Regions from separate parts of the Homo sapiens genome. Here region 1 is linked to region 2. Evidence: fine-mapped expression QTL. Tissue or cell type: whole blood. Region 2 holds a variant in brackets; the other region holds the start of a gene. All regions are shown on one strand. Distances are from middle to middle.

What was found.
Region 1: HTR6 starts here. The variant in region 2 is fine-mapped to the expression of HTR6 in whole blood (INTERVAL, PIP above 0.99).

Annotation. Positions count from the first base shown.
Region 1 is chr1:19,661,810-19,667,116 of GRCh38, reverse strand. It overlaps HTR6 (5-hydroxytryptamine receptor 6), which reads right to left and starts at 2,242. Exons shown (of 3, transcript NM_000871.3): 1 at 650-2,242. The coding sequence starts at 1,363. RefSeq lists enhancers at 477-1,447, 1,448-2,420 and a silencer at 2,199-2,428.
Region 2 is chr1:19,682,696-19,688,062 of GRCh38, reverse strand. It overlaps TMCO4 (transmembrane and coiled-coil domains 4), which reads left to right. Exons shown (of 16, transcript NM_181719.7): 16 at 4,619-5,367. The coding sequence ends at 5,023. Among named protein-coding and RNA genes, the nearest start is that of HTR6, 21 kb to the right of the region's middle. The variant C/T (reference allele first, on the strand shown) is at 2,722.

The DNA of each region.
Region 1 (5,307 bases), 21 kb after region 2:
GAGAGAGGGAGAGGGGAGGTGACACTGGAGAGGATGGCAGTGTGGGATCCTGAGGCCAGATCCTGAGACAGGTTTTCTTTATCTGGAGCACGGTGGGAAGCCTGAAGAGTCTGAAGCAGGGGAGTGACATGATCACTTCTTTTTTAAGTGCTCCAGCTTCTATGCAGAAGATGGAGAGTACTGGGTCTGCGGCAGAAGCAGGGGAGCCAGGAGAAGTCTACACAGCCTCCCCGGTAGGAAGTGGCAGGGGAGATGGCACCTGTTTAGAGCAGCGCCAACAGGTCTCGCTAATGAATGGCATGAGGGTGAGGGAGAAAAGTATTCCTAAGTTCCTGGCATGTGATGCCGCAATGGTGCCATTTGCCATGATGGGGAAGACCAGGGAGGCAAAGATGGGGAGAGTTGGGCCACCATAAATTCCCTGTTGTACATGGTACCTGGGAGAAGCCTGCCCCCAAATCCTGACGGAGCTATCCTGTGGTGGGTGGGTCAGGCATTGGCTCTGGAGTTCAGAAGAAAGGTGGGCGCTCACAACAGCCACGCAGGGCCATGAGCAAATGTGTGCTAAGTGGGGATGCCCAGGGGGTCCCCAGGGGCTGCTCATTCCTCTCTATCCCACAGCCCGGGTCTCCCTGCGCACCCCAGGTACCTGCAGCGTCTCCGAGGCCTGACTGGCCATGCCGGTGGTGAGGGAGGCCACCTGCACGGCCTGCTTGCGGGCAGCTAGCAGGATCCTGCAGTAGGTGAAGCATATGGCACCCGAGGGCAGGAAGAAGGTGAGGCCCGACGCCACAAGGACAAAAGGCAGGCTGGCCAGCAGGCGGCACTGGCCAGGGACGGGTGGCCGTGCGTGGCCCAGCTCGTGCCAGCCCAGCAGCAGGGGCAGGAAGGAGGCGAGAGCGGCGAGGCTCCAGGCGCCCAGGACTAGGGCCAGGGCACGCAGGGGCGTCATGCGCAGCTTGTAGCGCAGCGGCGAGAGGATGAGCAGGTAGCGGTCCAGGCTGATGAGGCAGAGGTTGAGGATGGAGGCGCTGCAGCACATCACGTCGAAGGCGGTCCAGAGCAGGCAGAGGCCGCGCGCCAGCACCCAGCGCCCGTACAGCGCGTTCAGCATGGCCGGCGGCATCACCACCAGCCCCACCATCAGGTCAGACGTGAAGAGCGACACCAGGAAGAAGTTGGACGTGTTGCGCAGCGCGGGCTGAGTGCAGATGAGCGCGATCAGCAGCGAGTTGGCCGCCGCCGTCAGCGCGATGACCACGCACAGCGCGGCCGCCACCCAGCCGCTGCCCCCCGGGGCCGACGGCGGCCCTGCCCCCCAGGCCGGGGTGCTATTGGCGGTTGGGCCCGGCTCTGGGACCATGAGGACCGAGGGTGGACGGCAAGGGAGTGATAGGGTGGCGGGAAAGCAGATGAGGGCCCCGGCGAAGCGCAGGCTGGACGGGGACCGTCCGTGAGAACAGACCGCGACTCACCACGCCCCCCGGGGGAGGTGAGTGGGGGGACATGGGCGGGGGCGCTGGGTCGCGCTAGGTCAGGGGGCAGCGACTACAGGAGGACACAGTGTGGCTATTTGGGCGCCCTCGGGGATGGGGCAGGAACTCCTGGAGCAAACGGGTTGGAAGTTTGGGGAGGGGCACCCGATGAGCCGAGGCCCCTGAAGGAAGCGGCGGGAAGTCAAGCAGAGGTCGGATGGGCTCCCTGGGGTGGGAGCAGAGCCCCCTGGAGGGGGCGGGCGGCAAGATAGGGGAGGGGCGTCCGGCCGGGTCAGAGTGCGGGGAAGTGGGAACGCGGGGAGGTGGGTGAGGGGGGTGAATGGGCGCTCTCGGGCCGGAGCAGGCTCCCCGCGGCCGGTGGGCGTGTGGGGTACCAGGGCGGGGGCCTAGGGGCCGGAGCAAAGCCGCCCCTGGGAAAGGCAGGTCTCAGCTGGCGCGGAGGCACCGGGATCCGGCGCACACGGCCTGTGCGGCGCGGGGGTTCGCCGGGGCCGCCAGGCCCCGCGGGAAGAGGAGGGCAGCGGCCGCGCGGCGCCCCCTCCCCACCCGGCAGCAGGGTCGCCTCCGTCTCCCGCCCGCACTGGTACCTGGGGCGCTCTGGCTGCTCCGCCGCCTGCGACTGCGGCAAGCGCCGCGGGGCTGCGAGAGGAAGAGGCGGCCGCGGGCCGGGCGGGCGGCGGGACCGGGTCTCCCGAGCCCGGGAGGCGCCGCGAGGGGCCCGCACGCGCGGAGGAGAGGCCGGGTGCAGCCTGGAGCGCGCGGTCCCCGCGCCGCGGAGCGTGCGCCCCGCCTCGCGGTGGGCGGGGAGAGCCGAGCCCTGGCCCTGCAGGAGGGCGGGGTCCCGGCACCCCGGGCCTGTGGGCCGAAGATCAGAGCGCCCCAGCTGCGAGGGGTCACCTCCCGGGCTGTGGCAGCCCCCACACCCTCAGATGCCCCTCCCAACCCACACGTGGCGGCGGCGCAGGCGGAACTGGGAGCAGGGGGCTGTGACCTGCCCTTATCCAGGGGCTGCTCTCTAATGGGTGCCTGCCCACTCACAACGGGGTCACCGGGCTTTCAGGGGAGCCAGGAGTTGGGAAATATTGGACAAATCGCCTGACACCCCTCTGGGCCTCAGTTGCCATATCTGTAAAATGGGTTAGTAATTCTGGGCATTCTTCACCGTTAGTTTGAGCAAGAAGCTAACCTTCCCCAGGGCCTTTCCCGCAGAAACCATCCCGATCCCCAAAGGGGCCAGGTACTAAGGATGAAGTCCCTGAGCTGTTGGCGCTCCTAGTCTAACAGAGCGTGAACAGATTTGAGAATCCCCAGGCCAGGTGTGTTAAGAGTCGCTGCAGGCAGAGGCGTGGGGTGTGGTTTCCCCTGGGTGTGACCTCCCTCTGTACGTCTCCCCTCTGGCTGAGAAGAGTCTCTGCCTAACACTGCTGTGCAGGTTAATACTGTTATTCATTCATTCATTGAACAGATACTTCAATGCATCTTTTAAGGCGCATCCACTAGATGTCAGGCACTGTTCTGACCCATCAGGACACTACAGTGGCCAAAACAAAGATCCGCACCTCCATGGAGCTTACATTCTAGTGGAAGAAACAGACAATAAACAATAAGCATAATCAACAGAGAAAGTGGGCCCAGCGAGGTGGCTCACGCCTGTAATCCCAGCACTTTGGGAGGCGGAGGTGGGCAGATCACCTGAGGTCAGGAGTTCGAGACCAGCCTGACCAACATGGTAAAACCCCGTCTCTATCAAAAATACAAAAATTAGCTGGGCGTGGTGGCGGGAGCCTGTAATCCCAGCTATTCGGGAGGCTGAGGCAGGAGAATTGCTTGAACCTGGGAGGCAGAGGTTCCAGTGAGCCAAGATTGTGCCACTGCACACTCCAGCCTGGGTGACAGAGCAAGACTCTGTCAAAAAAAAAAAAAAAAAAAAAAAAAAAAAGGAAAGAAAGAAAGAGAGAAAGGAAAGAAAGAGAAAGAAAGAAGAGAAAGAGAAAAAGAAAATGTAGTATAAAGAGAACGGGGTGGGATCATTTTTTCTCCACAGAAACAGAAAAATAATACTTTCCAAATCGAAGGCTCCTGCGCTGTCCCCAGGGGCTTTGTTGTACGGTTCCTACTCCTCCAGTTATTTATTCCGACCCCTACAATAATGCTGAGAGGTAGACGTTAAACTGGGGTTCAGAGAGGCCAAGGGCCTTGCCCCAGATCACCAGCAGCAAGTGGTGAAGTGGACCTGAAACCCAGATCTGCTCGATGCCCATGGCAAAGAGAGCCCATTACAGATGGTCAAAAACCTCCCCTCAGGCACCTCAGAGCCTGCAGCACCCACCCGCCAACTCTAAGCTGCTATTTGGTGCTCAGAGCCCCAGCCTTGCCCACAGAAGCATCTTTTAAGCAGATAGAGGAGGCCTGTCCTTCCTCCTTGCCACCACACTGCACCACTGTGACGATTTCTGCCATGCCCCCAAGGAACAGAACGTAGTACAGCAAGCCTGGGCAGAGAGTCAGAAACACATGGCTTGGGATCCCCGCTCCATCCCAGCTCTGGGATTACAGGGCCAGTGGCTCCATCTCCTTGGGTCACAGCTTTCTCTTCTGTAATAGTTAGCAGAACAATATGGCACCCACCTCACAGAGTAGCTGAGGGGATTAAATGACACTGATGTAATCTGTGTCTTTGATACTATGTTAACACTAGCTGGCCGGGCACAGTGGCTCACGCCTGTAATCCCAACACTTTGGGAGGCCAAGGCGGGCAGATCACCTGAGGTCAGGAGTTCGAGACCAGCCTGGTCAATATGATGAAACCCCGTCTCTACTAAAAATACAAAATTAGCCAGGTGTAGTGATGCACGCCCATAATCCCAGCTACTCAGGAGGCTGAGGCAGGAGAATCACTTGAACCCACAAGGCAGAGGTTGCAGTGAGCTGAGATCACACCACTGCACTCTAGCCTGGGCAAAAACAGCGAAACTCCATCTAAAAAAAAAAAAAACAAAAAAACAAAAAAACAAAAAAAAAACCTAGCTCTTGGCTTTAGTGTTCCCATCAGCACAATCGTAATGCATTCAGCTCTGTGCTAACTCCTTGAGCCCAGGGATTTCTGACGTGAACAGCTGCAACCCTGAGAGGTGCTGTGTGGAAGGATTTTGGAGCCCAGCATCCTGGGTTCATCATCCAGAGTCTGCCACTTGCTCTGTGAAGTTGTGCAAAGCCTCTTAAATTCTCTGCTGCTATGAAACCAAGGCAGTGGAGCTGTGAATGAGATGAGTAAAAAATTTTGCCTGATAAATGTTGCTTTGTAAAAATCTGTAGGTAGTGCATAGAATATTAGTCTTTCTGCTTTCACTTTTCCCACAATACTTGATATCTTTTATTTTAAAAAAAAGACCTAAAGATTAGCTGAGCGTGGTGGTGCACGACTCTAGTTTCAGCTACTTGTGAGACTGAGGTGAGAGGATTGCTTGAGGCCAAGTGTTCAAGGCTGCAGTGAGCTATGATCACACGTGTGAATAGCCACTGAACTTCAGCCTCGGTGACAGTGTCTCAAACAAACAAACTAACTAAAGAAAACCTGGCAATAACTTTAACATTTGTTCATTCTGGGTGATGGATCCGCTGATGTTTGTTATAATGCGCTCTGTGCTAAAATTTAAAATTTTATTTTAAGATTGGGCCAGGGTTATGGTGCCACCTTGTGGCCATACTGTTATTATCTTGAACTTGAGACTTTTTTTTTCTTTTTTAGAGACAAGAGTCTCGTTCTGTGGCCCAGGCTGGAGGCAGTGATGCTATCATAGCTCAGTGTAAC
Region 2 (5,367 bases):
CAGGGGCTGAATCTTCACGCAGTATCGGCTACACCAGAACTTTCTGGTGCTGAGAAGAGGCTCTTTCCCGACCTGCCTCACCCCTCTTCTCTCATCTCTCCAGCTAACTGTAAAACCAGAGCTCTGCCCAGCAACTGCTCCCCTGGGTCTTTGCAGAGGGGTGGCTCAGGGACTAGGGTTGCCTGAGACCCAGACCAACTTGTAGTCGAGGAGGGCCAGAGCTGTGTGTTCTAGGACAGCTCTCAGTGGAATTTCCATCTGGTATCAGCTGCAGCCAGTGGGTACCAACACCTCCCTTCCTTCCTGGCCTGTTTCTACCCAGCACTGGCACCAGCCATCTACAACATTAAAAAGGTATAGGGAGGCAGTTCTTGTTTGTCCTTAGAGAGGCAGTTATCACTTGTCCCTGTGGGTCTGAAGTTTCTGCTGGCTGGAATTCAGATGTGATGGCTGGAGCTTGAGCAGCCATCTTGGGCTCCCAAATGGATCAGCCCAGCTAACTCCCTACTCTCCATCCCCCACTCGTAGGAAACTAAGGTAAGGGAACTCATATTTACAGAGTACCTCCTGGGGTGCCAGGCACTGTGCTTCATGGTTTGTATTATTTCTTCCCAGCAACTCCTTTAGGTAGGTATCACTAACTCAAATTGCATGATGTCTCTTTAAAAGTGTTTGGGGCAGGGCATCGTGGCTCATGCCTATAGTCTCAGCAATTTAGGACGCTGAAGCAGGAGGATCTCTTGAGCCCAGGAGTTTGAGACCAGCCTGGAGAACATAAGAAGTCCCCATCTCTACATTTAAAATTTAAAAGGCCAGGTGCAGTGGCTCACGCCTGTAATCCCAAGCACTTTGGGAGGCCAAGGAAGGCGGATCACCTGAGGTTGGGAGTCCGAGACCAGCCCGGCCAACATGGTGAAATACTGTCTCTACTAAAAATACAAAAATTAGCCAGGTGTGGTGGTGCACATCTGTAATCCCAGCTACTTGGGAGGCTGAGGCACGAAAATAGCTTGCACCTGGAAGGCAGAGGTTGCAGTAATCCAAGATCATGCCATTGCACTCCAGCCTGGGCAACAGAGCAAGACTCCGTCTCAAAAAAAAAAAAAATTAAGAAAAACAAAAAGTGTTTTGGATCATATAGGAACATAATATCAAAAGCTAGCATTCTCTGAGTTCCTATGAAGTGCCAGGCCCTTGAACTCCTTATAGCAATCATTCAAGGTCATGACTCTCATTTTACAGATGGGGAAGCTGTGGTTCAGGAAATTGTGAGGACTGGCCCAGTTACTGGTAAGAGACAGAGCCAAGGCTGGTACCCCAGCTTTTCAGAGAGTCCAAACTTAGGTTCCTTCTCAGGCCCTGCAGCCACTAAATATGTGTCCTGCTGCAGAGGGGCACTGGCTGTGCCTTGACAACCACCCTGAGCCCAGGGCCCTGAAAACCACTTAGATGTGTGAATACACGTGTGTGTATTTTCCCTGGAATCTGTTTAAAAGCATTCGTGAGGAAAGGAACGAGAGGTGGGCAGATTCTAGTGGTGAGAAAATAACAAAACTGTACAGGGAATTGTCTTTTCGTGTTTTTGAAAAATCATTTGATTAATACAGTGTGATTTGCAATTCAAATGGAAATGCAGATGTTACCAGCAGTGTCTTTGTGCTGTTTTCTGAGATTCCCAACAACAGCCTCCCTGGTGTTTTTCCTGTCCTTTTTTTAAAAAGAAAGCCTTCCCCTTCAGCCTTAAAGGAAAGTCCGGTCTCATGCGCATCTTTGGCACTAAAGCAGGCCCCCTCGACTGGCTGGGTATAACGTGAGACTCCATCTCAGGGGCAGATCCAGGCTGAGCAGCTTCTGCAGGCAGCATCTCAGGCTCAGCACCAGACTGTGCTGTTCATGCGCTGTGTGTCATTAAGCAAACCGCCACCCCTCTCTGGGCTTTGCTGCCCTTCTCTGTAAAGTGAGGATGATTTTTAACCTTCCTTCCTTCCCCAGCTGATTTTCTCTGAAGAGAACAGGCTTTAGAAACAGGCCTGGATGGCCGGGCGCAGTGGCTCACGCCTGTAATCCCAGCACTTTGGGAGGCCGAGGTGGGTGGATCATGAGGTCAGGAGATCAAGACCATCCTGGCTAACACAGTGAAACCCTGTCTCTACTAAAAATACAAAAAAAATTAGCCGGGCATGGTAGCGGGCACCGTGGCAGATGCCTGTAGTCCCTGCTACTCGGGAGGCTGAGACAGGAGAATGGCATGAACCTAGGAGGCAGAGCTTAAAGTGAGCCAAGACTGCACCATTGCACTCCAGCCTGGGCAACAGAGCGAGACTCTGTCTCAAAAAAAAAAAAAAAAAAAAAGAAACAGGCCTGGATTCAAATCCCAGCCCTGCCAAGTTCTAGCTGTGTGACCTTGGGTAAGTCACTTTACCTCCGTGTGGCTCAATTTCATCTACAGTGAGCAGCCGACACCTAGCAAAGGAGTATATCCAAGAAGCTTATTTGCTGCAATGTATTAAGGACCTACTACGTGTCAGGCATTGTCCATTATTACATCTAGGCATCAGGCATTTCAATCACACCCCTACTTGTTGCTCACCAACATATCCCAACACAAAAATGGGATGAACGTATGACTCTGACGAAGGGGGTGGCCACTTCTGAGTTCTTGGCCTTTGTCTTAGTTAAGATGCAGACCCATATAACAGAGGCCCTGCTAATGTTTTTTGT[C/T]TGTTTGTTTTTTCTGGAGACAGGGTCTTGCTCTGTCGCCCAAACTGGAGTGCAGCGGCACAATCAGGGCTCACTGCAGCCTCAGCCTCCCAGGCTCAAGCCATCCTCCTACCCCAGCCTACATAGTCACTGGAATTACAGGCACACGCCACCATGCCCAGCTAATTTTTGTATTTTTTTGTAGAGACAGGGTTTCCCCATGTTGCCCAGGCTGGTCTCAAACTCCTGGGCTCAAGTGATTTTCCCACCTTGGCCTCCCAAAGTGCTGGGATTATAGAGGTGAGACACTGTGCCTGGCCTAATTGTCTTAAATACACTAGGGTTGATTCTGTCACATAAAAGAAATCAGAATAGGCCATTTAGGGCTGATGTGCCACTCCACAGTCTTCAAGGACCAAATTTCCCTCTTGCTGCTTGTTCTGCCTTCCTTAGTGGGCTGACTCATGGCCCAAGATGGCTGCTCAAGCTCTGGCCATCTCGTCTGAATTCCAGCCAGCAGGAAAGAGGACATGAGGGAAGAAGAGCACTCCTCCTCTTAAAGAGAATTCCAAGGAACACCACATCACACTACCGCTTCAACTCATGGGCCAAAACTAGTCACAGTGCTATTCCTAGCTGCAAGGAAGCCTGGGGAGTGTGCCCAGCTATAAATGTGAGTCCTTGTGACTAAAGAATAAACGGCAGAGTGAGTTGTAGCCAGCACCTTGCAGTCTATGCTGTAGCTTTCTTTCCAATTTGAGGACTTTTCCAGGGAAAATCCTCACAGCCAACCTCTGGTGAAACTACCCTTGTGTTCCCCTTTTTACAGCGGAGGAAGTTGAGAGCCAGAGGGGTAGAGGGGTAGAGGGGCTTGACCAAGGTGTCACAACTAGTGAACAGCAGAGCCCTTCTGGAGTAGCCTAGAGCTGCAGGCATCAGCTGGGCACAGTGCCTCAGGCCTGTAATCCCAGCACTTTGGGAGGCTGAGACAGCAGGATTTCTTGAGGCCAAGAGTTCAAGACCTGGGCAACATAGGAGACCCCATCTCTACAACATTTAAAAATTAGCCAGTCATGGTAGCATGCACGTGTAATCCCAGCTACTCAGGAGGCTGAGGTGGGAGAATCACTAGAGCCCAAGAGGTCAAGGCTGCAGTGAGCTATGGTTGTACCACTGCACTCCAGCCTGGACGAGAGAGAGAGAACCCATCTCTCTCTCTCTCTGTTTTCATTTTTCTTTTTTCTCATGCTATTTTAACAAAAAGCCCATCCCTTAAAAAAAAAAAAAAAAAAAAAAAAAGCTGCCGGGCACAGTGGCTCACGCCTGTAATCCCAACACTTTGGGAGGCTAAGGCCAGTGGATCACTTGAGGCCAGGAGTTCGAGACCAGCCTGGCCAATATGGTGAAACCCCTTCTCTACTAAAGATACAAAAAATTACTGGCATGGTGGCACACGCCTGTAATCCCAGCTACTCAGGAGGCTGAGGCAAGAAGATCACTTGAACCTGGGAGGTGGAGGTTGCAGTGAGCCAAGATTGCGCCACGGCACTCCAGCCTGGGCAAGAGCCTGTCTCAAAAAAAAAAAAAAAAAAAAAAAAAAAAAAGCTTCAGACAAAGAACGAGAGCTTCTACTCCACCTTTCTGTTTATCAGGAGATTCCTTCCTGCCCCAAAAGGATCCAGATTTTTTAGAGAAACATCCTTCATCTTTATTTAATAAATTCTAGAACAGCTTTGAACATAGAGCCTTCCCACCCACTCTGGATTTGAGAGCCACTGAGGGATGGAGTCATGGGTTTGGTGATTCGTTGGCTGTGGATGCTCAGGGCAAGGCTGAGGCCCAGAAGTTTGGCCGGAGGTCCCTGGGGAGGGCTGGGCTCTGCACACCCACGGTGGTGCTCACTCACTGTCTCCTGCAGGTCAGCGGCCACCTGGACTATGCCAAGCAGATGGATGCCATCCTGAAGGCCGTGGGCATCCGCACCAAGCCAGGCTGGGACGAGAAGGGGCTCTTGCTGGCCCCAGGCTGCCTGCCCTCCGAGGAGCCTCGCCAGGCAGCAGCTGCCGCCTCATCAGGCGAGACCCCCCACCAGGTTGGGCAAACCCAGGGTCCCATATCCGGAGACACCTCCAAATTGGCCATGTCCACAGACCCCAGCCAAGCCCAGGTGCCAGTAGGGCTGGACCAGTCTGAAGGGGCCTCCCTTCCTGCTGCTGCCAGCCCTGAAAGGCCCCCCATCTGCAGCCATGGCATGGACCCCAACCCACTGGGCTGCCCCGATTGTGCCTGCAAGACCCAGGGCCCCAGCACGGGGCTGGACTGACCACAGCAGGGGACCTGAGCCGTCTTCCCCAGTCTCCATATGCAGCTCTCTCTTATACCCTCGGGTTCCTCCCAGGAGCTCTGGAGGTACAGGATTTCCACAGGCCTCTTTCCTAAATGGAAGGAATTGGAACTGAAAGGGAAAGGAAATGGAAGGAAGGGGAATTTGGAGGAGAGAACACGCCCACCCTTGGGAAGCTGCCTGTCCCCAGAGGAGCCCCACCAGGGAGCAGCTGCCCCCTCATCAGAGACCTGCAGAGTCAACCAAGCACAGGTTAGAGTCCCAGGACCGGAAACCAACTGTGGGCTTTCTGTACTTCTCATAGCTTTGGAGTCTGGCTGTCC